Linked DNA regions of Homo sapiens. The protein of the gene in region 2 interacts with the protein of the main gene of each other region in a pairwise test. Each region holds a gene or a part of one and is shown on either strand. Other genes may lie near its edges.

Evidence for each region.
Region 1: the proteins of TMEM65 (region 2) and SCN3B interact in binary tests that used the Homo sapiens proteins (3 or more experiments, as listed by UniProt).
Region 3: the proteins of TMEM65 (region 2) and SLC7A8 interact in binary tests that used the Homo sapiens proteins (3 or more experiments, as listed by UniProt).
Region 4: the proteins of TMEM65 (region 2) and SLC10A6 interact in binary tests that used the Homo sapiens proteins (3 or more experiments, as listed by UniProt).

The regions. Positions count from the first base shown.
Region 1 is NC_000011.10:123,643,928-123,651,876, reverse strand, and holds part of SCN3B (sodium channel regulatory subunit beta-3 precursor), read left to right. Parts: intron 1-6,126; coding exon 6,127-6,290; intron 6,291-7,949. UniProt on the Homo sapiens protein: Regulatory subunit of multiple voltage-gated sodium (Nav) channels directly mediating the depolarization of excitable membranes.
Region 2 is NC_000008.11:124,369,529-124,377,778, reverse strand, and holds the start of TMEM65 (transmembrane protein 65), read left to right. Parts: upstream 1-5,077; 5' UTR 5,078-5,621; coding exon 5,622-5,925; intron 5,926-8,250. UniProt on the Homo sapiens protein: Essential for maintaining proper cardiac intercalated disk (ICD) structure and function as well as cardiac conduction velocity in the heart.
Region 3 is NC_000014.9:23,159,062-23,167,010, reverse strand, and holds part of SLC7A8 (large neutral amino acids transporter small subunit 2), read left to right. Parts: intron 1-470; coding exon 471-675; intron 676-1,574; coding exon 1,575-1,726; intron 1,727-7,949. UniProt on the Homo sapiens protein: Associates with SLC3A2 to form a functional heterodimeric complex that translocates small and large neutral amino acids with broad specificity and a stoichiometry of 1:1.
Region 4 is NC_000004.12:86,845,875-86,853,689, forward strand, and holds the start of SLC10A6 (sodium-dependent organic anion transporter), read right to left. Parts: upstream 3,511-7,815; 5' UTR 3,242-3,510; coding exon 2,865-3,241; intron 1-2,864. UniProt on the Homo sapiens protein: Transports sulfoconjugated steroid hormones from the extracellular compartment into the cytosol in a sodium-dependent manner without hydrolysis.

The DNA.
Region 1 (7,949 bases), on a different chromosome or scaffold from region 2:
ATCTTTGAAGAATATTGCTAGAATTGACAGAGTGCCCATCCCCTCCCCGACCCCAAAAAACTTTGGAAGAAGTGTACACAGTATGCCCATCTTTGCCCATTCTCAGTTTCTTTGCAAACTGAGTGTTGTCTCACCAAACTGAAAAGCTGTGGAAGGGAAAGAGAAGTGGTTCAGGACACTTGGTTGTTAACTGTAAGAAAAACAGCTTCCCTTCGCCAGGCGCAGTGGCTCACGCCTGTAATCCCAACAATTTGGGAGGCCGAGGCGGGTGGATCACCTGAGGTCAGGAGTTCAAGACCAGCCTGGCCAACACGGCGAAACCCCATCTCTGCTAAAAATACAAAAATTAGTCGGGCATAGTGGTGCGTGCCTATAATCCCAGCTACTAGGGGGACTGAGGCAGGAGGATTGCTTGAACCTGGGAGGTGGAGGTTGCAGTGAGCCAAGATTGTGCCACTGCACTCCAGCGTGGGCAACAGGGCGAGACTCCATCAAAAAAAAAAGAAAGAAAAACAGCCGCCCTTCACAGATACAATTTCATTTGATTTGCATGCAATTCCAATATTGAACAATAATGCTGGGTTAGATGTGTTCCCCCTTCCAAAGTTGATTTTTTAATATGATGTACAATATGAAGGGAAAGAGTCTTTCCATTTACTTTCTGCATGCATGAAAAAAAGTTTCCTTATTTCCTTTGTTAAAGCATGTAATAATTTTTATTTTTTAAAGAGATTTAAAAAATAATACAATACAATAAATAATTAATACAATAAATAATTAATACAATAAAATAATAATAATTGTATTAAAAAAATTAATACAGACGATGTCTCGCCATATTGCCCAGGCTGGTCTCTAACTCCTGGGCTCAAGTAATCCTCCTGCTTCAGCCTCCCATAATGCTAGGATTATAGGCATGAGTCACCATGCCCAGCCTTTAAAATAAATAAATAAATAAAACCCTATATTTGCCTGTGCATCACAGTTTACAATGTAATTTTCAATACATTGCTTGTTTTGGTCCTCATGTCTATCCCTGAGGTAGTCAGGGGAAAGAGTGCTATTTCCAGTTTAGAGATGAGAAAATGAGCTCGGGGAAGGGAAAGGACTTGCTAGAGAACCCTTGTTTTCTGATTTCAGTCTTCCAGTGCTCCTTCTAGCACCTCTCATGGACACATGTGCTACTATGCACAATCGCCAGGAGGGCACCTGTCCTCCCATTTCTCTTCTGAGCTACCGTCCCATCTCTCCCCAACACCATCACCTGTCCTAGGGCCTCACTCACTAGCACCTAGTACCTTCTCTGCCCTTCTTCTCCAGGCCTGCCCTTCTAGTTGCCCTGTGTGTTTTCCTCTCTTCCCCTGGTGATCTTTCGTGCATCCTATTCAAGGCCCTAAGTGACCAGCTAAATTGACAGAACAAGTCACGTCAGGGTGTCAGCATCTAAAAATAACCTCATTTATTACCCCTTTTTGGAAATTGTTTATATTCTAATCAAATTTTTCATTATCTCAGTGCAAAGGAAAGCATTCTAGAGCAATCTCAGGAGGAAAAATTGGGCATTGTCCAAAGAAGAGAAAGATTTGAGGGTATCAGAGAAGCTGGTTCATAATTCTTTATTATCTGCCTCATGATAGATGGATGCTACTACTCCCTAGTGAAATATGATCATTATTAATAATCATGTTTTTCCTTCTCATAAATTTCTTCATTATTATTATGGGAATTGAAGAGAAGAACAAAGGTCAAATGATTTGGTCAACATTATTCCAAGAGTTTGTTACTTTTAGTCAGCAATGTAGTTTGAGCTCCTGCCATATTTACAGCCTTCTTTGAATACCTAGAGGGTTTCATAGAAAGAAGGGCAGTGGTGGACTGGGTGCTGTGGCTCATGTCTGTAATCCCGGCACTTTGGGAGGTCAAGGTGGGTAGATCACCTGAGGTCAGAAGTTTGAGACTAGCCTGGCCAACATAGTGAAACCCTGTCTTTACTAAAAATACAAAAATTAGCTGGGCGTGATGGCAGGTGCCTGTAATCCCAGCTACTCAGGGGGCTGAGGCAGGAGAATCGCTTGAACCCAGGAGGCGGAGGTTGCAGTAAGCTGAGATCATGCCATTGTACTCCAGCCTGGGTGACAAGAGTGAAACTCCATCTAAAAAAAAAAGAAAGAGAGAGAGACAGAGACAGAGAGAGAGAGAGGAAAAAAAGAAAGAAAGAAAGAGAAAGAAAGAAAAAAAAGAAAGAAAGAAAAAAGAAAGAAAAGAAAAAGAAAGGAGAAAGAAAGAAAGACAGTGGTGTGCTGAAGACTCAAAGGATGGAGAAACAGACATTACCTCTTGAAGCAAGGAGCAGCAAGTCATACTGCAAAAGGCAAGCAAACAGAGGTGGGGGAACTTTGTGGCCATTTTTCAATGTACTCTTCAGGATCATACGAGCAGAGTTCTCATGCCCTGAAACTAGATTTTGACCAGAAGGGAAGGAGTGGGACTTGCTCTATGATGATACCTTGGATTATTGTTGCCTTAGGGGCAACCAAGAAAAGAGAGGGGCTACCCCACTTTCTGCCATACCCCATTTGCCATCCTGACTGCTTTCCCTCCATTAACTATAAATGAACTAACTATGCTTCTATCTCTGCCATCCCATCTACTTGTTCACTAGAGCACATCACCTCTCACCTTTTCAAAGATGTTAATCCAGCAAATCATTTTCTTGCATTTCATTTCTTTCAAACTCCACCAGCTCTACTGTCATCTTCACCAAAACAAAATCGTCTTCCAATCCGATCCCTGTACCAGACCTCTTAACTGTTTTGATTCCACCCTTGTCCCTTTCACTTCATCAGTTTATTCCCAACACAGCATCAGATCATATGATCTTGTACAAATTAGATCCCATCATTCTTCCTCTCAGAACCTTCTGCTGCTCCATGCAAATGCCATAAACTCTAAGCAAATGCCAAGGTTCTAACATGGCCAATAAGACCTGCTGTGATCTGGCCCTCCCCATCCCTCCTACTACTTCATCCCCTTCTATTCTCACGTTGTTTGCTGTAATTTCCACATTGGACTGTTTGCTGTCTGTTGAGCATGACAAACACACTCCTTTGGGCCCCTTGAGCCCTTGAGTTGCAATTTCCTGTGTTTGACATGCCTTCACACAGATATGTGTATAGCTTGTATCCTCATTTCTTTTCTTCAGCGCCTGCTCAATGATACCTTCTCAGAAAGGCCATCCTCCAATGACCCTGTGCACACACTCTCTCCTGTTTTATTTTTTCTCACAGCACTTTTTACTATTTAATGTTGCTGTTTTCCCTCTCCCTCCATTGGAATGTAAGCTCCATAAAACAGGGATTCTTTTCTTTTGTTCTCTGGTGTATTCTTCGTGCTTAGAATAATGCCTGGCACCCAGAAGGCACTCAGTATATTTGGGAAATAAACGAAAGATAGAATAACATGAATAATGACATTTGTACAAAGCACATTCATGTAAATTAATCCATAAAATTCTCATGATAAACCTACTAGACAGATGTAACTTTCAGCATGATGTCGATGAATAAACTGAGTCCAGAGAGATTACATAGTACATCAAACCCAACTCTTCAGTTGCCAGATTCTATCTTCACCCTGCCTCTATAATTGTAACTGTGCATTCCTTGAGACTTCTTAGTCCACTTCTGAGTTTGTCAACATGAAATGAATGAATTTATCTTTGCCAGCTCTCATTAAATATGAATGTGCCTTGAGGTTCCATACTACACGGAGTTCTTGCTGCATACGCTCTACCCCTCTGCCCACTCACAAACTTTTGCGCAAACCACATTTCCTTTTTGTTTAATCAGATCTATAATCAATACTTCAGACTCATCATATGCTGAAGATGTTTCTGATCAGTTCTCCCTAGATGTGAGTCCTCTCTCCATTAACGTGGCTCACCATCTGCAGAAGCAATAGGTCCTCTTGAAGACTGTCAGATAAGACTCACCCAGCTTGCTGGAGAGTTGAAAACCCAATTACATTTATTTTACCTTGATGTTTACAACTTTAAGTTAATTCTAGTGCCACTAGTTTTTAAACTCCATGTTTTAAAATAAATACATTGCCTTCTAAGTCAATCAAACACAGTTTTTGGACTCAAAATTAATTTATGGCAGTGTCTTATTAAGCTCTAAATAAAACCTTCCTCTGCTTTTAGGAAAGAACGCTCTGCCAGGAGATGAACAGGCTGACCATTAACAGTGGACTAGTTTTTAAATGTAGTGTGTATTATTTCTTTTTTTTTCTGGGGGTTCTGTTTTTATTATTAATTCATGAAAAAGTAGCATCAGAAGGGATCTTCAAAGTCCTAATATAAGAATCTGCGGTGACCATCATGTTGTTTTTATTTTTTCAAGAGATAGGGTCTTACTCTGTCAACCAGTCTGGAGTGCAGTGGTGCCATCATAGCTCATTGCAGCCTCAAACTCCTGGGCTCAAGCAATCCTCTTACCTCCTGAGTGGTTGGGACTACAGTTGTGTGTTACCATGTTTGGCTAATTTTTATTTTATTTTATTTTTGTAGACTCAGGGGTCTCACTATGTTGCCCAGGCTTGTCTCAGACCCCTAACATCAAGCAATCCTCTCAACTTAGCCTCCCAAAGTGCTGGGATTGCAGGTGTGAGCCACAGCACCTGGCCTCGTCTTACTTTCAAATATCCCAAACAATGCTGTGTACACTCTCTTAGCATTTAGTTATTTGCATTTGTGAACAGCTCCAAAATCATAAAATTCTTTCTTTATTGCATTAAACTTATTTTTTTCTTATAACTTTTAGGGTTGGGCAGAATCAAATTTCTCTTCCATCTGCCAGCCTTCAAATATTTGAAGACAGATATGTTCTGTGTCCAAGCTAAGCAACTCGAATTCTCCCATTTTTTCCTCACCAGACTTTATCTCCAGATCCTTCACCATCTCCCTCACCTCTGGGCATGCACTCTTTGAACAACTTCCTTTTTTAAAATGTGACATCCTGAACTGATCATAATAGTCCAGATTTGTTCCAAAAACAGTGCCGAGAAACTACGCCTCCTTCCTCCTGCGTACTGTACATCTGTTAATGCAGCTCACATTTGCGCATGTTTTGCTGGCAGCCTTGTCCCGCTCAAGTTATTCTGAATTATCAAGCTGATATACTTGCCTCCTTTTAAAAAACAGACTTCAAGTTTCTAGAGGGCAGAAACACTAAGTCTTAGACCTCTGTGTGGCATGCAAGGTGTCCCACAATCTGACCCCGCTCCAGATTTTAACTTGCCTTGCTATACTCCTCTGCATAGACCATTGTTCCAGCTTAGTGGTCCGCTCGCCATTTTCTTCACTGCTGCTCCAACCTCCACCATGTGTCAGAATTACCTACAGTTTTCACACAACACAGATACAATTACATCTCTCCACGACTTTAAAACATTGGATACCTCACACTGGAAGGGACACACAGAGGTCTTCACAGCATGGGCCCTGCCTACCTTTCTAGCCTCATGTTTCACCATCCTTCTCTTCCTTTCTCCCCAGGCCAACTGGGAGTAACTAACTGCCTGTCTTCTAAGAACAGAATATATCATGAGTGTGTTACTTGCTGTGGTCTGGTTTAATCCTAGTTAGGAATATGTGTTCCCTATTGGATTATAAATGCATTTAGGGCATGGTTAGTGTTTTATTCATCTTTGCATCTCTAGTCTAGCATCAGACCTGGCAGAGAGTGGATTTTAATGAGTGGTGGTGGAATGAAGGGGGATGGATGGTTGCTGGGTAGGTAGATGCCCTGTCTCCCATTTGGGCTATAAGACTTAGAGAGCAGGGCTCAAGTATAATGTACGGTGCTGCATCTCCACTGCTTCCAGGGGAAGGATTTCAGTCAATGTCTAGATCATCCAGGTCTCCTCCAATGTGTACACGTTCTGAGCCTGTACATTCAGGGAGCGCAGGTGAAGGTGTAGACATGTGCACGTGGCTTTTTTCAGGTTGGCCTCATGACTCTTCCTTCTCTGTCTCTCTTCCCTCCCTCCTTCTTCTCCAATGTTTCTCTCCTGTGCCCCTCCCCCACCACCTGCTGTTCCTTCCCTGTCCATCTGTCCTCTCTGCAGTCAGTGTCTGCTTCCCTGTGTGTGTGGAAGTGCCCTCGGAGACGGAGGCCGTGCAGGGCAACCCCATGAAGCTGCGCTGCATCTCCTGCATGAAGAGAGAGGAGGTGGAGGCCACCACGGTGGTGGAATGGTTCTACAGGCCCGAGGGCGGTAAAGATTTCCTTGTATGTTAGACTGCTGACTCTGGCCTTTCTTCTGCTGGCCTCTGCTGTTCCCAGCCTGGCTCCTGACAGTCCGGGGGATGCCAAGCTAGCAAACACTGGCTCCTTCTCTTCCAAACACTGACAGATCCTCAGCAGATAACTGACAGCCTTAGTGAAGCCCCAGCTTCTGTGAGAGAAAGGGCACTGGGCCAGCTGCAAGCACCCTTGATTATGGGCTGGAGGAAGCAGAGGAAAGAGATATGCTATATTTAAAGCCTACTATGTGATAGGCGCCCTACCACACATTTTGCAGGTGTTTTCATCTAATCTTCTGTGCCATCCTATTATATGCATTAAATTCATAAAGAAATTGGAATAACACAAAGCATCATTATGTGAAATAACAAAGGTTAGCTCCTTTAACTCCTGCAGTCCCATTGAAATAGGAATGACAGGGATGACAAAGAGTGATCCAAGGGTGACATTCACCCGGGACACCCAGCACAGCCACATCAGTGAGTCAATTATGTCAAACAGTTCTCTCGTGGATACTTGCTGTGCCGAGTCTCCTAAGTGGCTGAACCCCCAGACTTATCCATGATTTGGAAACGAAGAGATTCGCTCCTGGCAGAGCTGGGAGTCTTCCAGATTCTGCTCCTGCACCATAGCCAGTGTCAGTTCTGGGTGGTTGGTGCCAGTGGCAAAGTGGTTGTATATGTGTGTGTATATATATATATGTATGTGTGTGTGTATATATGTGTGTGTGTATATATATATATATATATATATATATATATATATATATATTCTCTCTCTCTCTCTCTCTCTCTCTCTCTCTCTCAACGGGGTCTCCCTCTGTCACCCAGCTGGAGTGCAGTGGTGTGATCTCGCTTACTGTAACCTCCACCTCCCAGATTCAAGCGATTCTCCCACCTCAGCCTCCCCAGTAGCTGGGACTATAGGCACCACCACCATGCCCAGCTAATTTTGGTATTTTTAGTAGAGACAGAGTTTTGCCATGTTGGCCAGGCTGGTCTCAAACTCCTGACCTCAGGTGATCCACCCACCTCGGCCTCCCAAAGTGCTGGGATTCCAGGTGTGAGCCACCGTGCCTGGTCGGCTGTCATATATTTTGAATACCACCTTGGAGATGACCATTATTTACTCCTTCACTGACTGTGGAGCCAGGCCACCTGGGTTTGATTCTTGACTTCACACTTATTATCACCTCTGTGTCCTTGGACATGTTGGTCATCCTTTCTGTGCCTCGGTTTCCTCATTTTTAAAGTGGGGATATAAAGCATAGCCAAATTATAGGGCTGTTACCAGGACTCATGAGCTATAATTTTTAATGCATTAAAAATAGTTTCTGGAATATAGTAAGCACTGGTAAATGTTTGCTAGAGAAAAGATAGACACAGAAATGAGGAAACTGAGGCTCAAAGAAGTTAAGTTAATAACTAAGACAGCTTTGACTTGAGCCAGGTGGTCTAACAGCAGATACAAGGCCCTTTTTACGGCACTGCTTTGCCTTCCTGGGGGCAAGTTTCTCCTCCACAAAGATTTGTAACAGAGACAATGGAAGGGCGAAACTGGGTTTAGCTTGCTCTTCTTTCTCACTATCCTAAAGCCGAACCCATTTCTAACTCTAGCTTCTATGTGCCATTCTGATGCAGATTT
Region 2 (8,250 bases):
AGCAACATGTCCGAATTGATACAGCTGGTAGGTGTTAGAGTTAGGATTCAAGCTCAGGGGATCAATCCTCTTTCTGGTATGCTATATCTATTTGTATTTCAATGTGAATTTTCATATCAGTTTGACAATTTCCACACACACACATACAGACACACAAACCCAGCTGGGATTTTGACTGGGATCAAACACTGAATTTATAGATTAATTTGGTGTGATGATTAATTTTATGTCAACTTGACTGGGCCAAGGGATGCCCAGGTAACTGGTAAAATATTATTTCTGGGTATGTTGGCGAGGGTATTTCTGGAGGAGATCAGCATCTGAACTGGTAGACTGAGTAAAGAAGTTCACATTCACCAATGTGAGTGGGCATCATCTAATACACAGAAGGCTGAAATAGAACAAAAAGGCAGAAGAAGGGTAAAAATACTACCTCTGCCTGAGCTGAGGCATCTGTCTCCTCCAGCTCTCGGACATTGGTGGTCCTGGTTCTCAGGCCTTCAGACTTGGACTGGGACTTACACTTGTGACCCCCTGGTTCTCAGGCTATCAGAATTGGACTAAATTATACCACCAGCTTTCCTGGGCCTTCAGCTTGCAGACAGCAGATAATGAAACTTCTCAGCCTCCATAACCATACCAGCCAATTCCTCATAATTAATTTCATTCTGTATATATTTCTATATCCTATTGGTTGTGTTTCTCTGGAGAACCCTGACAAATGCATTTAGGGAGAATTGACATCTTATACTACTGAGTTTTTCAATCTTGAATTGGTATTTCTCTCCACTTATTTAAGTCTTCTTTAATTGTTCTAATAAGACTTTGTGGTTTCCATTGTGAAGAAACAATTTATTCACCACCACTGTGATGGGGCAGAGGCCTTCCAGGGGTCAGAATACTAAGGCAGGAGCTTGATGGATGAGAAGTGCAATGAGGAAATTGCAAAAATATGGGCAGAAGAAATGATTAAAGGGTCCACTAGGTAAAGCAACAATTTCAAGAATTTTAAAGCAGAATAGCTGGGTGTATAAAGTTTCATCAATGGCAGGCAGCAAACAGCTGTGTGCCCTGCCAGCAACAGGGAAGCCAGGAACTCTGGAGCGTATTTATATGATGCAGCTTACCATGGACTGATGATTCAGCAGCAATTTTTCATGAGGAGGAAACTGTGATTGTTAACCGAGGTATGACAGTTGTCCTCTTTAAAAGCGAAGAACAGGCTGGGCTGAACTCAGGCCAAGTTTGCCTTCTGGGCTTTCCTTCCTTCTATCTTCCATTTCTGTAGCCCCTCCAGCCTGCTAGCATTTCCTCTTCAGCACCATCATATTTCTTCGGAAACTCCCCTTTGCCACCTGCATCTAGACCTGCTCCACAGCCCCATAAACGATCCCCAAATTATCTCCCTCCCTAGATCCTTCATCCATTCATATTTAGGATATTCAGGTGTTCAGAGAAGGAAGTGGTTAGGGGATGCAGTTAATACACATCCATGTATTAAATGACAGATAGCTAGGTGGGCATTTCTCAAATGAGGGTCCAAAGACATAATCGTAGAGATTTGAGAGGTCCGTGGGCATTTAGATAATAATAGCTAGTATTTATTGCATGCTTGTCATGTATCAGGTGCTGTTTGAAATGCTTTACATGTATTATTTGGTTTCACTATAACATTACAAAGCAGATGCCCTTATCTATATTTAACAGGTGAGCAAACTGAACATGTTCTTATTCCCATTAAACAGATGGGCAACCACGGAAAGGTTGATCAGCTCAAGGTTACACAGCTAAGAAATGACAGTATAAGGACTCAAATCCAGGCAGTCTGAGTCTAGAGCTAGTGCTCTCAACCCCAATGCTGTCATCTGGGGCTCAATTGAGCCTGGATGGTCCAAGATGCTGTCATGCATGTTTGGCAGTTAGCTGGGGCTGTTGGCTACGGCCTCCTCCTCCATTTGGTCTTTCCAGCAGGATACATCAGACTTCTTTATGCAGCAGCTGGATTCCAAAAGGTAAATGTCTTCGAGGCAATTTTTCCATGTGGAAAATTACCTTGATGCAATGGCAGCCTCCATGTATACACCTACAGGTCACGAAATAGATAGGCTTATAGGCCAAATTAAGAAGCTTAAATCACATTATCTGGTGGTTCTAAAACGTATCCTCAAAGGTTTTGGCATTACTCCTATTAAGATGTGGGGTTTATATCCCTTTCCCTTGAATAGGGGCTGGCCCTAGGGGTTGGCTTATAGCCAGTAGAATACAGTGGAAGTGATACTGTGTGACTTCCAAGGATAGGTCAGAAAACGCCACAAGCCTGCTTCTTTTTAGACATTCACTCTGGGGAAAGCCAGCTGTCTGGTGAGAAGATCACCATGCTGGAGTGGCTGTGTGAAAGTGCTCTGGTTCTCAGCCCCATTTGAGCTACCAGTCAGCCATGTCAGTGAGCCATCTTAGCTATTCAGCCCAGCTGAACTTTCAAATGACAGCAGTTGTGTTGAAATCTGATTGATACTACATAAACGACTCCAATAAAATAACTGTCCAAGTAAGTTCTTCCCCAATTTCTGAGCCTCAAAATTAAGAGCAAAATAAATTGGCTAATTAAACTACTAAGTTTTGGCATAATGTGTCTACCCAAAGAGCAGCAATAATAACCAGAAGAGTTTACCAACCAACATAAAACAGAGTGAGAAGCAAGGGGAAAGAGATAGGGTAGATTAATAAGCTTAGGATAGGCTGAAGGACCATAGCACCTAAATTCTGTTTTATGCAATGTTCTCATGTCTTATCCCTCTCCACCATCCAGTCTTCTCAGCACATAGTGTGGCTACAAGGACCAGACTGGAGAGTAAGTAAGGTGACTCAACAGACTGAAGGGGCCTGGGCTCAACATATGTCTGTTCTGTTACAGAGCTGAGGGGCAAGTGTGTCTGGTTATAATGGTAGCTGGCATTAGTTGGCTTTGTAGCTGGGGGTTTATCTGCTTTTCTTGGGAAGAGATTACATGAGGCCATAATAGCGTTACAATGGGTGTTACCAGTAGGTATGCAATTTAGGGATGACATGGCTGTAAATCTGAAGATAGTATGATCTGTACCTTATTAATACTTAAAAGTCCACTTTGTCTTTCTGCCTCTATCTAAAGCAGCATTTTCATTTGTTCCATCCTTTTTATCTATGTTCAACCCATATCCATTCATTCTATGTGTAACCTTTCTCATAAGTGACTTGCTTCTACATTTTAGTTTCTCTTGTTTTATAATAGAATTAAATATTCTATAGTAATATAGCAAAAGCATTACAGCAAACCCCAATGAGCAAACATGTATCATATCACGTTTATGATGTCCTCCTATTTATTGACCAAAACAAGTCAAATAGCCAAGCCCACAGTCAATGTAGAGGTGGACCACACAACGGAGCGGATAATAGAAGGTGTAGTTCATTGGGGATCACTACTATAACAATCTAATACTAACACATAGTTAGGAGACGGTTGATCCAGGGATCGAACTTTCCACAGTCTGTCTCTGGAGGCTACACACTAAACTACTATTCTGGAGGTGGTTGGGAATGGGTTCTTACTGAAGAACTTTTTTCAAACCTCACTTCCCAGGTCTGGGGCCTGTGATCCACCCCAGTGAATCAGAATATCTTGGGGGTAGGAAATTGTGGGGGGGATGGGGTGGTACTCCCATGAGCCTGAGACTGAAATAGCTCTGCAGAGGATTCCAGTGCACACTAGGGAATGAAGGGGGTTTCAAAGACAAGGAAGATATACTTTATGCACTCAAAAAGCTTTCATTTCCACAGAGAGCATTCTTAATTGTTGTTATTACATCACAGAGGCATCACCTTGGAATTTAAAAAAGAAGCGATTCCTTTCAATGTTTAAGAGACATCAGTGTTTCTCAAGCTTTCGTGTGTGTTATTACTGGAGGGCTTGTTAAAACCCACATGACTGGGTCCAATGTCTACGTTCTGATTCAGGAGGTGTGAAGTGGGGTCCACTATTTCTCACGTCTAAAAAGCTCTGGGACACACTTTGAGAACCAGAGTTAGAGAAGTAGGAGGCTTTAGTGGTAACAATCCTCCATTATTCAGTTTAATATTCTACTTACATGTAGCACATTTACTACCTACAAGTTTCCGGGCTGAGTGCAGCACTGTTTATGATAAGGATGGGATTTAGATCTTGATTACGCTCCAGCAGATTTATTAAGTGGATTTATTCTCTAAGGGTGCCTAAGCGTCATTAGACAGGTTCAGATAAAGCAGAGATCTCCTCCCTTAGAAGAGATTAGGGACAGCTTAATGAAGTAGGAGACCTTTCACCTGGGCCTTGAAAGATGCCTAGGACCTGGATCAGGGGAAATCGTGGACAATCAAATTATTCTTCCCGCTTTAGCACAGAGACAAAAAAATCACAAGCAACCACTAGGAAAGGTCTATGACATTCTTGCCTCTGCCTCTAGCATTAACAATTTGCATGCCAGCTGCTGGAATCTGAACGGGGAGGACTGTTCTCGTGTCAAGGGCTCAGTCTCAGACCCTCCTTGGGCAGGGGTGGAACTGGCTTCGCTTTCTCTTTGGGGCGCCCAGAGCGACTGCATTAGAGCCGGCCTGCTCGGCCGAAGCGGCGGTGGGCGCTGACTTGGCGAAGGGCGCAGCTGGGGCGCTTCGTTCCGGAGCAGAGCGCCGTGATCCCGTCGGGGCTGGGGTGGCAGCGCAGCTCTCCGCCTGTCCAGAGCGGGGCCGCACGCCGGGGCACCTTTCAGAACAAGCTCCAGATGTGGCCCCAGGTTGGGGGCCGGGTGGCAGCTGTACTACCCTGGCGGGCGAGGGGTCCAGAGCTCGTTTTCCCTATTCCGATCTGTAGGTTTAACGCCAGCACAGGGTGGCGCACCCTACCTCCTTCCACCTTCACGCACCAGCGCGGGAGGGGACGCGTGTGCACGCTCCTCCCCTAGGAGGGAGGGCGGCCCGAGAGCCTGCAGACTGCGCCTGCGCAGCCTCGCTCACACACCTCCCCGCCCCCCCGCACCTCCTTCCCCTTTCGCCCCGCCCCGTTCCCACTTCTGCTGCCGCTAGGGGTAGCGGCGGCGGCGGCGGCTGCGGCTCGGGAGCGCGGCTGCTTTGAGGGCTCGGGAACCTTACAGAGTGGGGACGTGGGGAGGCTAGAGGGTGAGAAAGCTGGCGGGAGAGTAGGGCGGCGCTGGAGGAGGGCGGTGCGTGGCTGACTCATCCTCTGGAAGATCAGACTGACAGAGACACACACTAGCCCGCCCCGCCCGCCCGCGCCGCTCCTCCTCAGCCGGGAGGCGCCCGCCCGCACCGACCGCCCGCCCTCTCCGGGCGCTGTCCGGGCCCGGCCGTCTCAGAGAAAGTTTTTCCCATCGGAGGGGCGGGAGCCGCCGCGGGCCTTTTGGAAAGGAAGTGGGGACGGAACAGGAGGCGAGAGCCGCGCGGGCCCGCGGAGTGCATGGTGCCCGGCGCCTCGGCTGCCTGGCAGGAGGACCTCGGGGCGGGGTCGAGCTGAGCCCAGCTCCTTCTCGCCTCAGCCGCGCCAGAAACCGCCTTGCCGGACGGCCGCGGGGGTCCCAGCTCCTCAGCTCGCCATGTCCCGGCTGCTGCCGCTGCTGAGGAGCCGGACCGCGCGCAGCCTGAGGCCGGGCCCGGCCGCCGCCGCCGCGCCCCGCCCGCCGTCCTGGTGCTGCTGCGGGCGGGGGCTGCTGGCGCTCGCGCCCCCCGGCGGCTTGCCGGGCGGCCCCAGGCGGCTGGGCACGCACCCCAAGAAGGAGCCCATGGAGGCGCTGAACACGGCGCAGGGCGCGCGCGACTTCATCTACAGCCTGCACTCCACGGAGAGGAGCTGCCTGCTCAAAGAGCTGCACCGCTTCGAGTCTATTGCCATTGCCCAAGGTAAGGGGGGCAGGTGGGGGGCGAGCCCGGGGGCCCCGACGCCCTCCTCTTCTCGCCAGCCCACCGGGAGCCCGCTGCGGCCCTGGATCTTGGACCCCCGCCGCCGCCCCCCTTCCGCCCCCCTCGCCTGTCTGGCCCCACGCCTGGGACGGCTGGGGGCGGGGAGACTTTCCGCCGCCCGAGTTTCCCCCAGGCAGGTAGGACGGGCGCGGGTCGTGCCAGGCAGCCGAGGCCAGCGCTAGCTACTTCCTCCCCAGCCTCCGAATCCGGAGCTTCGGCCTAAAATGCCAGTTAACGCTGTTGGGATTGAGTTTTGATTTGCCCCGTGCCTCCCCTCCCCAGCCCTCCTGTCCCTTAGCCCTTGCTGCTTTCTTGCGAGCGTGCACCCGTGCAGGTGGCATGCTGTGCCTGCTCCGAGAAAGTGCTGCAAACCCGCCTGGCAGGAAGAAACTTTTTGAACGGTTATCAAATGAAGACGTATGGGTGGGTAGCCAAAAGAAGGGGTGTAGCTTCGAAAGTCAGGGATGCTCATAGCTGCTTGTTTCCACACATGTCTGATTGCGTTAATTTCAGCAGCCAAAGGAAACATTTTCTCCAGAAATGGAAAGACAGATTCAAGTTAAACTCCAGTTTTGGTTTTTCCCAGAGGTTGAAAGAATGAAATAAATAAGGAGGTATATTTTTTGGAAATCTGTGGCTCTGTAGTAAAAGTCAGACTGATGCTCAAAAGTAATTGGGAATGATGAAAGCAAAACGATTTTTAAACTAGCATGTTAAAATAGGATATTTCTAAAAGGAGTCCAGAATGGGGTAGGGCAGAATTTGAGTCTAGGTGAAAAAGCTAAAAGTTCAGAAAATAAAAAGGATGAAAGGAGCAAACGACTAAAATGGATGTCTTAAAATATTTCTGCCACTTAAATACAGTTATGTAAACAAAACACATTGCTTCAGTTTGTATTACATTCTGATGTGTTTGAAAGTTTTAAAAAAGTTTACTCTCCTCTCTAAACTTGGTAGGTACATAAACATCTCATAGATTCCAAAGTGTAGAGCACATTGATTCGGATCATGCCATTTGATTTGCCAGACTTGAAAGTATATCTTTAGCTGATGTGCAGGAATGGAGGAAAGAATTATCTACCTCATGTAAGCAGGACGTTATCTGTACTACTTCAGAAACTTGTTTTAGTTGTGGCTTTTAATCAGATGTTTTCCCCCTCAGTTCAGGAAATTGTGGACCAATTTATAGTGGATGATTGATTCCAGACATTGTTTACCCACAGTGCTTTTACAGGAAAATGTAACGTCCGATCAATTCCGTTATTCAATGTGTAATCATGATGTTATATGCAATCATAATGAAACACTAGCACATTTGTAATCTATGTGTGCACTCAGTATGCAGTTTAAAAATAGTCAATTCTGAAAATATGCTCCTTGGAAAAATAATATAGTCAGTCATGTACTAGAACATTAACTTTTGAATCTTTCTGCACTGACAAGACTATTTGAACACACATTTTACCTTTTCCAAGTAATTTCTTGGAAATTCTGCATTGTCAACAAGTTACAAGATTGGAGGGCCCTATGAATATAGTTTTGTGGCAGTTCTTGAAAAACATGTCCTGCAAGGTGACTGAATAATTTTTTTCTCATACATTATTATTTTTTACATGCCAGCAGTATTGCAGTAGCAATGCTACATTTCCTAATAAAGATAATATTTTTAAATTTAACGTGGTTTTAAATATTCTGAAAAGGACCTAAGCACTTTAGTCAATGGAGATCATTAGCATCAATTAAACTTAGTTATGTTACTAATATGAGAGAGAAATTAGTAATTTAAATTGTCTTCTTTGCTCAGGAGAAACAGTCAAGGATATTTGAAACAATGGTTAGTCAGATGCTTATCTCTCCTCTTTATATGCTAAAGAACATCAAAGTTTAAATCAGCTATTTTTGCTGATGTCGATGACAAAATGATTGTCCTATGAATCAAATGACACAGATGCTGCTGCTTTGTTAGTGTATGTAGTCTTGGTGTTCACTTACTGTTTTCAGTATCAATACATATAGTTATGGAGATAACTAGAATCATCACTTAGGAAATTACCTTATTCATTAATCATTAAGGTAAAAGGGATTTTATTATGTTGGGAATGCGTACAGCTCATTCCATTGCTGAAATCAACAATTTTTTTCCAGCCAGATAAATGAAAAACTCCCATGTTTTCTTTTATTGTTGCTTTTTGAATAATGTTTTGAAGTACTCAACCGATGTATTGTGTGTGTGTACTAAGTGTACTTTCTAACAAAATTAATTCT
Region 3 (7,949 bases), on a different chromosome or scaffold from region 2:
CAGGTGGTCTCTGAAAACAGCCCACTTTTCCAGCCCTGCCATTTTCAGAGAGTCTTGAAGGCCTTGTCACTTTGGGTGGACCACGTGTCGCTCAGCTGGAGGGTCCTGAGATTCAATACTTCACCATCACTTACTGCGATGTGGACCTAGGCAACTCACTTGGTATCTCTGAGACTCAGTTTCCTCCTCTGTAAAATGTGAGAAATATCTGATTCCATAGTGTCATCCTGAGGATTAAATGAGATGTGGAAAGTACCTGACCAAGTTCCTGGTCAATAAGTGTCAGTTCTCTGCTCCTCTTTCCCCTACTTCAGGGAGAATTATTGCTAGGCACACCTGCCTGCAGATCATTTACATATATCCAAGGCATTTCAGAATCAGATCAGAAATGAGACCACCCTCCAAATGCCAATCCTGCCAACCGTCCTGTCTCTACTGTCTCCCCTCCTTACCCTTGGTGCCTCATGCAGGGAACATCATCGGCTCTGGAATCTTTGTCTCGCCAAAGGGAGTGCTGGAGAATGCTGGTTCTGTGGGCCTTGCTCTCATCGTCTGGATTGTGACGGGCTTCATCACAGTTGTGGGAGCCCTCTGCTATGCTGAACTCGGGGTCACCATCCCCAAATCTGGAGGTGACTACTCCTATGTCAAGGACATCTTCGGAGGACTGGCTGGGTAAGAGGATCTGTGGAGACCTGAATGGTCTAGGGGAAAAGGAGGAAGACATTCAGAAGGAGGTCAGATTGGAAAAAGCCAAGGCCAGGGGTTTCCAGTCTCCAGTGTGCCACGGGGTGCTAGTGAATGGAATGTCTCTTCTGCTTTCCTGCCATGGTTGCTAGTGTAGCCTTGTATCCCCTTGAGGCTCCCGATAATGATGGAGGACCAGGTTTGTAGTTTTGACCTCTATGTTGATCTTAGTGGGAAGGAGTCTATGAGTGAGAGCAAACAGAACTGTGTAACAACACTGACCATAGATTCCCAGAGAAAGCACATCACAAAAACAACGCCCTTCTATCTTGACAAATGAGAGTGGCCAGCTAAGGTAGAGTGCACCCTCTTCTCACACTACCAAGGATAATGGCCTCCCTCTAGAGCTGGGCCCTAATCTTAAATTTCCTCAATTTCTGCATCCCTGCCATTGGTAAACCCTCACCAATGGGCCAAAAGGTGTGGAAGGCGCTTCCCCTGCAAACCCCCACTTGATACCTCTCCTGATTATTGCTTACGTAACCACACCCTTAGTATGTCCTGTCTATCAACATTCTGGGGTTGCAAATTTTGTTTTTCCACCATTGGATGCTGGTGGCCACAGTGATGGAGAAGAGATCATGAAAGGAGAGGAGAGAAAGGAAGAACGCCAAGACTTGTGTTAGTGCTTGTGGAAATTTAACTCTTCATTAAACCATTTTATTGTCACTGCAGAGGGCTGGGTGTCTCATTTGTGGGTGGGGGCAGAGGCTGGGCTCTTCAGCATCCTTGAAAATAAAAAAGAGATGCATGACTTGCCCGGGCTCTCCCCTGATGGCTCTGCGTCCCTGCCATGCCTTTCGGCGGATGTCCCTTTCCTCCTTCAGGTTCCTGAGGCTGTGGATTGCTGTGCTGGTGATCTACCCCACCAACCAGGCTGTCATCGCCCTCACCTTCTCCAACTACGTGCTGCAGCCGCTCTTCCCCACCTGCTTCCCCCCAGAGTCTGGCCTTCGGCTCCTGGCTGCCATCTGCTTATGTAAGTGTCATCTGGGTCTTGGTAGCAAGACAGCCTCTTTTATTATATTTATTATTATTATTTTTAGAAACAGAGTCTTCACTCTGTCACTCAGGCTGGAGCGCAGCCGCATGATCATAGCTCACTGCAGCCTTGAACTCCTGGGCTCAAGTGATCCTCCTGCCTCGGCCTCCCAAAGTGTTGTGGTTACAGGTGTGAGCCACTGCACCCAGTCTGAGGGACAGCCTCTTTTATCCTCCCTGGAGGTCTACATGTCTCTGACTCTCCTAACTTCTCTCCATTTTTTTTTTTTTGAGGCAGGGTCTCACTCTGTCACCCAGGCTGGAGTGCAGTGGCGTGATCTCCACTCACTGCAACCTCCATCTCCCAGATTCAAGTGATTCTCCCACCTCAGACTCCCGAGTTGCTGGGATTGCAGGCGTGAGCCACCATGCCCGGCTAATTTTTGTATTTTTTGTAGAGATGGGGTTTCACCCTGTTGGCCAGGCTGGTTTTGAACTCCTGACCTCAAGTGATCCGCCCGCCTTGGCCTCCCAAAGTGCTGGGATTACAGGCCTGACCCACCTCACCCTGCCTCCTTTTCTTTTCCCCATTACTTTTCTTTCAATTTCCTACAAGTGTGTTTTTTATGAATGGATTCTGCATACAATTGTCTGGTGTTAAAAAAAAAAAAAGAAAGAAACTTAAGTAGCTCCTTGGAGGCACTATGATTTTCACTGGCAGGGTTCTTGACATTACGCAAAGCACTTTCACCTATATTATCTGATTTGGGCCTAATGACAAGTCCATGAGGTAAGCTGGGCCAGTGTTAACATTTTCCCAGAACAGATAAGGAAACAGAGAGCCAGGCAAATGACTTGCCCAGGGAGGCAGGCCACGTGGAGTGCAAGGGCTCCTGATTTCTTGTCTGTCCAGTGCACTGCACTGTGCTGGCTACTCCCAGCTGCTCCTAGGAAGATTACTCTGGCTTCTTGGCAGTAGGTCCACATCTACTTCTACCTCAACTTGTCAAGTCACACTCTTTTAACTCTCTTGGAGAAGGGTTTGTCCATGATCCCTGCCCTTGATGAGTTTTCTAACTAGGAGAAAAGCCATATAGACAGATACTGTGGTTAGGATTCAATTGCAGTAAAAATTCAGAGAAGGGAGCTAGGCATGGTGGTGTACACCTGTAGTTCCAGCTACCTGGGAGGCTGAGGTAGGAGGGTCGATTGACCCTGGGAGTTCTGGGCCACAGTGAGCTATGATTACACCTATGAATAGCCACTGCACTCCAGCCTGGGCAACATAGTGAGATCCTGTCTCTAAAAAAAAAAAAGAAATTAAAAACAACAATAACAATAAAATTCAGAGAAGGGGAAAAGATCTCTGTGGGCTGGAATAGGTTAGAGAGGCTTCCTAGAGAAGTTCTGCAGAGCCGTATTTCTAGGAAGTCTCAAAGCTTTATCTCTGATATTAGTCATCTCAATGGATTGGGGTATTTTACATCTTTAATCAAAAACTAATTTCTAAAGTAAATACTTAGATATGTTTCAGGGGCTCCACCTCTAGGGTTCACTGGGTCCCTGCCTTCCCATAGCTTCTAACACACATACACTTAGCTGAGGGCAGTGATCATCCTGGCCATATGCTTTCCCAGGTCCTGACACTTTTCCTTCTGTCCTGTTACGGGATGGGGGAGGAAGAGATCACTCACCCACCTCAGTAGCCTCTTACAGGGCAGGCAGCTGGGACCCAAGAGGCGGTCTCCTTGGCAAGTGAGCCCTCTTTGGCAGTGCTGGTCAACCCTGGGACAGACCTCCACCACCCAGGCCATTTGCAATATGGGGCCAAGACATTTGTTTGGGGGTGTATTCCTTGTGTTTGATCAGGCCTGCTCACAGATCTGGAGGCAGAGGAATGCAGGCTCCAAAACCAGGCTGCCTGCGCCTGCATCTCCAGTCCACCATTTCTAACTGCAGTGGTGAGTGCTGGGCAAAATCACTCGTCCACCCTACTGTGAGATGGGGAGTGTAATCCTAGCTGCCTCAAGAGGTCGTGGTCACAAGGACTGCAAGAGAGAAGGAAGGGGACACCCTCAGCACAGTGTTAGACACCCAGCACCCCAGTCATATCAGTCACTGGGGGTGGGCAAGATGCTGGGGCCACTTTATCCTTGCATCCTAGCTGGATCCAGAGTTGAGATGGGGAGCGGGGAAGAGCGAGGGCGTGGGAATGCAGGAAGAGTGCTGTTTCTGCCATCAGATCAGCTAATGGGAGGGTGGGAGGCAAGGCCACAGAAGTGCTAGCTACTGCTGTTTTGGTGTTTCTTTGCACACAGACAGCTTCCTTTTTCCTGCTGATGCTGCTAAAGTGTCTCAGACAAGAGGCCACCCTTACCCTTCTACTAGAAATCAAGAACCCCCGAGGCTGTTCAGTTTGCACCCTAGGAGAGGAGCCAGGCCACAGGTTGAAGAAGTTCCCAGGCAGCCAGACCCCATGGCTTTCTTTGCATTCCCCAAATCTGCCAAGGGTTTGACCTCTTGCACAAAGACCCTCCAAAGTAGTGTAGCCTTTTTGGCGTCCCCTCGGACCAGAAAGGTCCAAACTCTCCTAGGAGATAAGAACGCCACCTGCCTGTAGCCCTGCTCCAGAATGACATGTTGCACAGTCCTCTCCACAGCCTTCCCCTCACCTAGACACTGCAAGGACCAAGCCAAGGAGAAATTTAGAAACTGGCTGATGACAAAAATGACAAGACCCCCCTCCTCTATTCCTGTAGTCAAAGATTCAATAAAGCTTATCTAAGTTTGGCCTCTGCCTTCTCAGCAGAACTGCAAGGAAATTATCTCCAACTTAACAGTAGCCAATCTTGTCCTCTAAAGACAGGAATTTTCAATGTCCTTGAAATATGGGTTCAAATATTTGTCTACCTTCATAAGCAGAAAAATCTTAAATCCTTCTTATTCCCAAGCGTAGTCTTCCTTATTTCCTTTAGGGGAAATGGAAACCAGCTCCACACCTGTCCCGCTGCAGTGTCCCTTTCCTCCTAGCTGTGAAGGCCATGTGGAGCTGCCATCCCTCTGCCCGGCAGGGTGCACACGTACATGCATTAGCTATAACAAACTTCCTCTCTCCCTTTCCTTATACCTGACACTCCCAGCTGCTTTGAGTCTGTGTACAGAGGTTCTGTTTTCCGGTTTGTTGAATACTTTTTTTTTTTAATCCACTTCTATAGGCCCCTCAAATCCTCTCTTCTTTTTTTGAATTTTATGGCAGGCCATACCAGATAAGCATCCAATCCTCTCATACGGTATTCAGTAAAACAAGAACCAAGCTGTCAGGAAGGCTTGGTAGATGCTTTTTTTTTTTTTTTTTTTAGATGGAGTCTCACTCTGTCACCCAGGCTGGAGTGTAGTGGCGCCATCTTGGCTCACTGCAACCTCCGCCTCCCGGGTTCAAGCGATTCTCCTGCCTCAGCCTTCCAGGTTGCTGGGATTACAGGCATAAGCCACCATGCCCAGCTAATTTTGTATTTTTAGTAGAGATGGGGTTTCCCCAAGTTGGTCAGACTGGTCTCAAACTCCTGACCTCAAGTGATCCACCCGCCTCAGCCTCCCAAAGTGAGGCCACTGCGCCCGACTGGTAGACGCTATCTTTCATTAAATGCTGGTACTTTTTATTCCAGCACCCCTCCCACCCACCCACCTACCCCCACCATCATCCAGCCCTCCTCATCCTCTTAGCAGGGGCCAGGCAAGCCAGCTACATAAAATAAGCCCAGCCTGTGTCTCTTTTGAGAGACGCAGTAGAGAGTTCCGGTGTGGCGTAAACATATGCACATGGGGAACTCTGCTTCCTGCTGTCCTGTGGCGACATGCTGATGACTGTGAAGCGAGAGGTTTTGAGGAAAGGCCACCCTCTGTGGAGAGGTCATTGGTGTATAATGGAGGGCACTGGAGGACAGGGCACAGGGCCCAGCAGGGAGAGCCTGTGTGGTAAAGCCCGTGGCGAGGGTTTGCTGGGGGAGGGAGGAGATGAGGCCAAGTCTGGTTCCATGGTGGGGCTGTTTTGGAGGAGAACTGATGAGAAATGAAGTTGGGAGGAGCCAGGTGGTGGGGGTGGAGAGGTGGAAAGAACCTGCTGAAACTGGCTTGCCTGCCGGATCCTGAGCGGGTCGGGGAGAGGAGAGGGAGAGGGAAGGAACTGCAGACTTGGATCACACTTATGCAACTGCAGCTGCCACTTCGAGTTATTCTATTATTTAGGTCAAAGCTGATTACTCACTGCTGAGTCAGCAGAATATCCCTAGCCACCCAGCAGTAAAAAAAGAAAAGAAAAAAAAGAGAGAGAGAGAGAGAAAGTATTTTACATTTTAATTAAATAAAAAGCCTTTCTCTCTTCTCCAGAACAAGTATATTAGTGGGAGTGGAGGGAGTTAGGAGGGGACTGGGAAGTGTTAGAACTTGGTTTTGATACCTTTTGTGATCTGCTTGTGTGTTTTTCTCCTTTTGTATTATTTCATGAGTAAATGACTATATTCCCCATATAAAAGATCCAAGTAAGATATAGAGCCAGCAGCGATAGCCGCCCTTATCATCAGCCGCTGGCCAGTAGCTGCAGTCCTAGTGGATAGTTCTAAATAAAGTGCATCTATTACTGTACAACTCTGGCTGCATGGACCTATGTACTGACAGGTTATTCCTACAGCGTGCCCTTTTTTTTTTTTTTTTTTAAGACGGAGTCTCCCTCCGTCACCCAGGCTGGAGTGCAGTGGCGCGATCTCGGCTCACTGCAAGCTCTGCCTCCCGGGTTCACGCCATTCTCCTGCCTCAGCCTCCCGAGTAGCTGGGACTATAGGCGCCCGCCACCACGTCCGGCTAATTTTTTGTGTTTTTAGTACAGACAGCGTTTCACCTTGTTAGCCAGAATGGTCTCGATCTCCTGACCTCGTGATCCACCCGCCTTGGCCTCCCAAAGTGCTGGGATTACAGCTGTGAGCCACCCCCACCCGGCCTACAGCTTGCCGTTTTATCCTGTAGCCACATCTTTTGGCTGTTACCTGGGTCTCTAGTTGTAAACAAAGCATCCACAATGATCCAGAGGAAGCACTGGGTCCAGGGGACACCCTTTCCCAGGCTTCCATCTGTGCATCTGTGCAACTCTGCATTTTCCTTTGGGATCCGTTTGCTCCCCATTCTCTTGGAGACTGGATCACCTTTCATTCAGTCCCCTCCTGGCCTCCTTCCTCTCATTTGGGGTTGGAGTCATGTCCAGCACCTGAAGTGGAATCAATTCTTTTTATTCAAGTTCCCCACTTCTCCCTGAATGTCTTGACCTAAAGAAGTTCCTTCTCCTTCCTCACCCTCAGGAGAAAGAAATATCCTGTATGCATCTCTCAAGGAAAAAATGCTTCTAATCTTGTTTTCTATCTTTCTACTGAGATTCCTAAGAGGCTAGCTTTTTCCAGGGCTTCAGATAGCTCTTCTTCCTTGAGCTATTTGGAAAGGAAAGGACTTCATGTGTTGCTTCAAACTCCTGAGTTGCTTTGCAATTCCTCTGCAGAAAGCCTCCAACTGCCTGGTGCAGAATGCTGTCACAGAGAAACTCGTGAGTTGTTTTGCAAGTCTCTTGCAAATTTAATCAATCCCTTGACCTCAGAGCATTCAATAGTCTTTCCTATCATCTAAATCCCTTAACCTCAGTTTATTTTCCCTTGAGCCTTCACATTCTCTACCCCCAAACTGCTCCTCCCCAGACACTAAACATTTTCCTTCAGATACCTGGGCAGCACTGCCTTCTTGCCCTTCCCTAGTCCCCAGAGAGTTCTTCGGGTATCCGATCAGCCTCGTTTATATGAATTCAGACAAATACAGACTGGCCTACATTTGATTCCCATATATCCAAGACTCCATTTTTCTCTGTACGCCTTCTAACTAGCCAGCATTTAAAATCTAAATGTATTGAAAATCTCTTGATTTTTACTCAATGGACAGTTTGACTAACATCTCATTTTTCATTTTTATGATGCATTAAGATGAAAATTATTCTGTAAGCAGATTTTTTTTGGAAAAGAGAAAGAAACTAAAAAAATCCATCAGCTAATTACCATACTGAACTCCTACACTAAGGGGAGATAAGGTATGATTTATAGAGTCTTAGAAAAGATTAGTCTAGTGAAGAGAATCGTATGCAAAAACACATCATTACAATACAATGTGATGGGGAAAAAATGTGGGCAACA
Region 4 (7,815 bases), on a different chromosome or scaffold from region 2:
ACGCACAAACCGGTTCCAACCAATGGATTCTGAAATGCCTGTGTGGGGTGAACACATGGAGAACTGCAAGTGCACTGCATGAAGCAGGAGTGAAGGCATGAGAAACGTGCTCAAGGTCATCTGCAGGGAGCTAAATCTCCACTTCCTCGTGTGTCAAATGAAGATGTTGTGCTAACCGCTCTTGGATTTTATCCAGCATTAACAGCAGATAAAACTCCTATCAATGACGATCCACTGAGTTTTGCTTAAAACTGATTTTTTGTTGGTATTCAATTATGAAGAAATGTAATTACTTAGATATTGTTTCACACCGTACTTGATTTTCACCTATTTGAGTTTCTACTGAAAATTGATTTTATTACTTTTGTACCTATAAGCTTCTAAAAATCTAATATTTAGTTTTTGCTTGTTTTTTTAGTTTTGTTGGTAAGACTCAAAATCAAAATTTAGAAAGAAAAGAGGAAAAGTAGCTAATATTTATTGCACAACTACTATGTACCTGGCACTCTGAATACACACACACACACAAATATATATTTCCTCCATAAATATAGTCTTGTGTCAGCCAGGCGCCGTGGCTCACGCCTGTAATCCCAGCACTTTGGGAGGCCGAGACAAGAGGATCACCTGACGGCAGGAGTTTGAGAACAGCCTGGCCAACATGGCGAAACCCCATCTCTACTAAAAATACAAAAATTAGCCAGGCACGGTGGTGGGTACGGGTACCTGTATTCCCAGCTACTCAGGAGGCTGAGGCAGGAGAATCACTTGAACCCAGGAGGTGGAGGTTGCAGCGAGCCGAGATCGCACCATTGCACTCCAGCCTGGGCGACAAGAGTGAAACTCCACCCCAAACTATTATCTATATATGTGTGTGTGTGTTTGAGTGTGTGTACATATATATACATATATATACAGTCTTGTGAGAAATAGGTAAATTTAACCCCATTTTGCCAATGATGAGATAAGGCTTAGATAGGTTAAATAATTTGAACAAAGTTAAAGGTGAATTAAAGATAAGAGTTGGCAAAAGAAAGTAAAAGTAGCTTTATCTTTCATAGGTTTCCTGTTCATTGGTGTTTTTATGACAACATTGACTAATAAGAGATTAAGGTAATAAATGTTCTCTTTCCCAGAACACAAGTGTTTGAGAACACTGAAGATTTATGCTGCTATTCAAAACAGAAGATCTAGTTGTGTTGCTAAATGCCATGGGGGAAATGTGCCTAAACTGCAGACTGATGTAAAACAGATGAGAATTCAAATCTGAGTTCTGCCATACTGGTTTGTAGCATTTGGCAAGCTACTTAACCAATCTGAATCACAATTTTCTCAGCTGTAAAATTCAGAACAATAAAAGGCCATTTACAAGGTTATTATGAGCCCCAAGAAGAAAATAAGCATGAAAGCATCTATCCCATGCCTATGGGGCACTTAATAAATATTAGTTTCCTTTTTCTTTCCAAAAACTTTTAGGTCCTGGAATTTATCTCTGATTTATGAACTTCATGCAAAGAATATCTATCATTTCCCAGTTAAATAATCAACTTTACTGAATTTGAATTAGCAATGTATATTAATGGCTTTTACCATTAAGGTAAAACACAAAAGCAGTGTATATTAGTGGCTTTGTATATGAGTGGCTTTTACCATTAAGGTAAAACACAAAATTCATCAAGTTATTTTTTTTTCAAATCTCTCATAAGTGGGTAAACAAAAACACTGCCTTGGGAAAGTTAGTTCCTATTCTGCATGGTATGAGCCCATTAAAATTTATAGGTGAAATATGTTCCATACGCTAAACATTCAGCACAAGCGGAAAACTGGAAACACATACCTGCAGCTGACTCTCACTGATGTCAACTCCCAGCTCAGTCATTACCTCTGATTCATTCATTCATGGTAAAGTGAATCTCAACTAAATGACATACACATGAAACAAATACTTAAATTTATAAGCAGTTCTTCCCCAGGGCAGGAAGTGAAACGGCATGTTCACAAGTAAGCAAAGAGTCTCGAGAGACCATTGTTTTTAGCTCTTTTTCCAGTGCTATCCCTCTACTCTTTCCTCAAATGCTCTTTTTTTCCCCCATCAAAACATGTAATCCAGAAAAGCATGTGACTAATTCATCCTCATTAAAGTGTAAATAAGGGACAAGGCTTAATGTCTCCCAGAGGTATTTATCTACACCATAATTGGGAATAAGGTCACTGGCTTAAAGGGAAGGAATGCGAATCTAGTGATGATGTTAACGATCTGCAAAGCAACAAGAAAGAACAATTTTAGTCCTGAGAGCCTTCGCATTGCTCCTGAAGTCAAATCGACAAGCCATCTCAGCACTTAAAGCTGGATATGGCCACCAGACACCCCTAAAGCTCCTTTATCCAGTCCTCTAAAGTGCTTCTTTCCTAAAGTAGGTGCTCAGGCATCACTGACTGGAGCTACGGGAGTCTCATTCTGACTATGCCACTGACACAACCACGACGGCTGCTACCAAACCACAATCGTTAGCTTCTTGGGATTCTTGGTTTAAGTCCTAGGAGTTGCTAAAGAGGCCAGTGTAGGTAAGAATGAGCTCAAGCTTAGGAAGGGCCACTGGGTGAGGTGCAGACCTGCCTCCACTGCTCAGAACGCATCCCACTGCTCAGAACAGTAGCCAATAAAGAAAATGATCATCAGCAAAGTAACTTTTGAGCACTGAAAGGAAAGCCCACCCATGGCTGAACAAGTCTCTGTGATATTTGTAACATTTCCCACTAGAATCTCTACCAAAAGATTAGAAGAGTGTTTAACACAAGAGTTTCAGTTATTCCCCCTAGGCAGGATAAGAGACAGACTGCTGAGCTTCCCTGGGGTTACTTACCTGAGATCCATATCTCCATCAACCCAGAAGGTGAAAATGTTAGAGATGGTGCCCCCCGGGCAGCAGCCCATGATGAGAACAGCAATAGCTTGGACTGGCTTCAGAGAAAAGCTAATGGCCAGGAGATAAGCTGTAAAAGGCATGAGCCCAAACTGGCAGAGCAGTCCCACAGCAATGCCCCAGGGTCTCCTGATGTGCGACCACAGCTTCCGGATCTCCACGGAACATCCCAAAGAGAACATGAGCAGCCCCATCATCACAGTGGACACCACTGTGAAAACGAGCTCCAGGTTTCCATGCACCTCCAGTCCCACTGGCAGCTCCTCCTCTGAACTGTTGGCAGGGCAGGCTGAGCTGCTGGAACAATTGGCTCTCATCTCCTCATCTCCTTAAGGCAGCATTACAAATGAACATCGGCAACAATGGCTGGGCAGGTCTATCCTGCCACATTTTGTAATAGTGCAACGAAGTCACACATGGAGAATCATTCCAATAACTGTTGGCCAGCAAGGTGATTCATCCTAATCTGATCAATTTTTTCACAAGTGGCATTATAAAAGTAATTATCACAGGCATGAAACATATAATAAACTGTGGTAAGTAAGGCTTTCCACTTCTGTTCTTACTCACCACTGAATATGTATGTGAGATGAGACAAACAAACTTGTTGTCAAGTGGAGTGACCGGGCTATGTCGTCAGCATCACATTGTGTCCCTGGAAAGTAGGGTGGATGCCAAGAAATAATTTCTCCAAATTCAGTTGGGATTTCAAAGAGCCAGGATGCACAGACAGAAAAGCTAACTCCGGAAAAAACAACAAAGCCAAAGCCACACCTTGTAGCATTAGCAAAGCGTGTCTGCTGGAAATAGAGCAAAAAGAAAAAAAACGCCGGTGGAGGAAATGTCAGGAGGGACTAAGAATAATTTCAAGGAGCTTCAGAATTTGTCTCAGTTTTTCTTCTAGTTCTATTAGAATTTGTGTCTAAAGTCAATAATTAAACACCTGTGAGAATAATATGGTATTAGGCACCTAATTATGTCTCATGAAACATGTGAAAACTAATTCCTTCACCCAAAATAATTCAAGGGAGCTCTCACTTGCTTTTGGAGATAAGAGTCTACTTTGAGATACATACCCCTGGCCTCCTAGGGACATCTGGGAATCCTGCAAGGGGATGTGGTAAAGAGCTTGGTCTGAAATGGAGATGGGGTCTGAGGACAGCCTCTGACCACAGTGCCCAGGGCCCCTCTGTGCATTCTAAGCAGGCACTGCTGGCAAAACCCAAGGACTGTATGGTTCTGTGAAACTAAACCTCTGAAAAAGCAGGTGCCACACCCCTTCTCACAGCAGAAAGTTTATTTGTGGGGCACAGGCTAGTAACAAGGCACACTTCATAAACGCCTCTACCTGTCTCAAGAGGGATACTAGCTATGCATTGTTTATTCATGGATGAGCAAATTCTTCTCCATGACAGAATGCTCAGGACATGCTGACTGTATAAAAATACAAGTTAGATTCAAATGTGAAGTAAATTCTAACTATTTGAAGAAAGAATAAACTGCCTTTGGCAAACAAACCCTGAAGGCAGCTCTGGCCATCCAGCCTCCCTGGAGGTTGCGTATAAGGGGTCAGTCAGCACAGGGCGTATTTACGCAGAGCCCTGCAGAGAATGGACACTGAGGAACGGGAAAGGTCTCTGGAAGGCAAGGTGTTCCCAGCTTGAATGATGCAGAGGTGTGGTCAGGCTGAGGAGGAAGGGAGGAGGGAGACAGCTAACATTTTCTGAGCACTTCTCAGGGGTGACAGAGGTGGTGATATGGTTTGGCTGTGTTTCCCCCGCACCCAAATCTCATCTTGAATTATAGCTCTTATAATTCCCATGTGTCATGGGAAGAACCTGGTGGAAGGTCATTGAATCATGGGGGCGGGTTTCTCCCGTGCTGTTCTCATGATAGTGAATAAGTCTCTCAAGTTCTGATGGTTTGATAAAGGGGAGTTCCCCTACACACGCTCTTGCCTTTTCTGCCACCATGTAAAACGTGTCTTGCTTCCCCTTCCCCCTCTGCCATGATTGTGAGGCCTCCCCAGCCATGTGGAACTGTGAGTCAATTAAACCTTTTTCCTTTATAAATTACCCAGTCTTGGGTATGTCTTTATTAGCAGCGTAAAAACAGACCAATACAGGTGGCTAGGTGCTTTACACATATGTGGCTATGTCTGGTGAAGCAGAACTTTATTTACTTATTTAGCAAGAGAAGGGGTCAGGGGTGTCTGCCTAGATAATGTCCAAAAGCCCCTTAGTCAACCTTCTTTTTTTTTTTTTTTTTTTTTTTGAGATGGAGTCTCCTACTGTCGCCCAGGCTGGAGTGCAGTGGAGTGGCGCGATCTCGGCTGACTGCAAGCTCTGCCTCCCGGGTTCATGCCATTCTCCTGCCTCAGCCTTCTGAGTAGCTGGGACTACAGGCGACCACCACCATGCCTGGCTAATTTTTTGTATTTTTAGTAGAGACGGGGTTTCAGTGTTAGCCAGGATGGTCTCGATCTCCTGACCTCGTGATCTGCCCGCCTCAGCCTCCCAAAGTGTCAACCTTCTTTGTTCCCAGGAAGAGTCACTTGAATCGCCCTTTTTAGTTATACAAATTTAAGTTTTGTATAAGCACCTCCATTCCTGATAAGGATGGTATAAGCACCCCCATTTCTGATGAGAATGGTGTGACGGGAACTTTTGTGATTGCTGGGTACTCAGTGCTGATAGAGGGGAGGGGGCTAAATATGCATAGCAGCCTTAAGGAGCCTCCTGGGAGAGGGAGAAAGGTGACCTTGGCCACTTCTCTTTTAAAATGTAGTGTTGGCCGGGCGCAGTGTCTCATGCCTGTAATCCCAGCACTTTGGGAGGCTGAGGCAGGTGGATCACGAGGTCAGGAGATCGAGACCATCCTGGCTAACACGGTGAAACCCATTCTCTACTAAAAATACAAAAAAATTAGCCAGGTGTGGTGGCGGGCACCTGTAATTCCAGCTACTCAGGAGGCTGAGGTGGCAGAATGGCATGAACCAGGGAGGTGGAGCTTGCAGTGAGCGGAGATTATGCCACCAAACTTCAGCCTGGCAGCCTGCACGACAGAGCGAGACTCCGTCTCAAAAAAAAAAAAAAAAAAAAAAAGTAGTGTTATCAGAATTTCTCAAAAGAATTAGGATGTTTCCGACTGAGGTCAGCTGGTCCTAACACACACCAGGAAAGACAGGGGTTTCTTGCCTGATGACAGGTTCCTCTGTGTCCAGTCACCCTGGACAGATGCCACAGGACACAATGACTAAGTATATGGATATGACCTGAAGAGAAGTCATCTTGAGAGCCCAGGCTTGGACACCGCCATGTTGTGTGCCAGGACTGGACCGGAAGGGACAGGGTGGCAATGGATAAAGGCCCACTGGACTGGGTGGGGCCAATGCATCAAAAGGTCCCAACAGAAACAACCGCAGTGATCCCAGGGCCTACCAGCGGGCTGGTCAGGCTTTTCCAAGTTTCTCCCCAGTGGAGATGGGAAGGAGATTTTCCTGGGAAGAGTAAGCACTTAGGGTTCTCGGTCAATTTGTAAAGAAGATTTCAAATACAGGATCGCAGACTTCCTGCCCTTATTGGTAAGTAGAGATTCAAATGATTAATTAGAAAATTTTAAAAAGCATGACCAACTTTACATCCCAAGCCAGTGAGGCAGATTATGAGATCCCACTTAATCCTCACATTTATTCTAGGAAGTAACAAAGGCCCATTGGGGCCATATTATTTGTCGAAGATTATTAAGCAGGTAAATTATAACATTGGGATTTAAATCTCAATCTAATTCTCCACCTGTCCTCGTTTCCTTCCCTGGAGCACACTGAAGTGGAAGCAATGAAAAGCAGTCAAGAGCAAGACCATGCGGAAAAGACTGGCAACCACTTAGGCATAGCTCAGGGGTAAAACACCACTATTTGGCTTAAGGATGGAGAAATAAACTAATCCCTAATCTCTAACATTATCTTCTATTCTCACACACTCAAAAGGCATCTACATATGTTCAATATGTATGCACCTTCATTTTGAGATCCAGTTCTACAAATCACAGGAAGTATTTCATGTACTTCCAGCCTCTGTAAGTAGAATTTGGGGTGAAAGATACTCCTCAGGAAAACCAACAGAAAAGGCTGGGAATGTAAAGTCTGAGGGGAAAGTGCCAAAAGAAAAGGTAACCAGACTTGGCTGTGGAACTGTTTCCCACGCTCTGAAAGGCAGCACAGGGTAAAACTTCTAGAAGCTTGAAAGACAGAAAAATCCTATAGGTTCAAAAAGAGTTTACGTAAATTCATGAGAGATAAATCCAAAACAGATATAAAGGAAATTGGCAGTAATGGAAAAAGTAGACTGTTTACTCAGACATGACACAAGGTAAAAAGCCAAATTCAGTATTTTTTTAACTCAACAATAAAAACACTATCACTTCCCAGAAAAAAAGACAAAATACTTGAAAAAAAGTGATCAACATCTTCCATGGTTGTAGTGTCCCTTCCAAAACTCATGTTGACATTTAATTGTCATTTTAACAATGTTGAGAAGTGGGCCCTTTAAGAGGTAATTAGGTCATGAGGGCTCTGGATAGATGAATGCTGTTATAGTGGGGAAGAATGGGTTCGTTATAGTGGGAATGCCATGTGATGCCTTCTGACATGTTACGATGCAGCAAGAAGGCCCTGGCCAGATGTGACCCTTTGGGAAGCCCATGATTTTGGGCTTCCCAGCCTCCAGAACAATGAACGAAATAAATATCTTTTCTTTATAAATTACTTTGTCCGTGGTACTCTGTTATAGCAGCAGAAAACAGCCAGGCGTGGTGGCTCACACCTGTAATCCCAGCACTTTAGGAGGCTGAGGTGGGAGGATCACCTGAGGTCAGGAGTTCAAGATCAGCC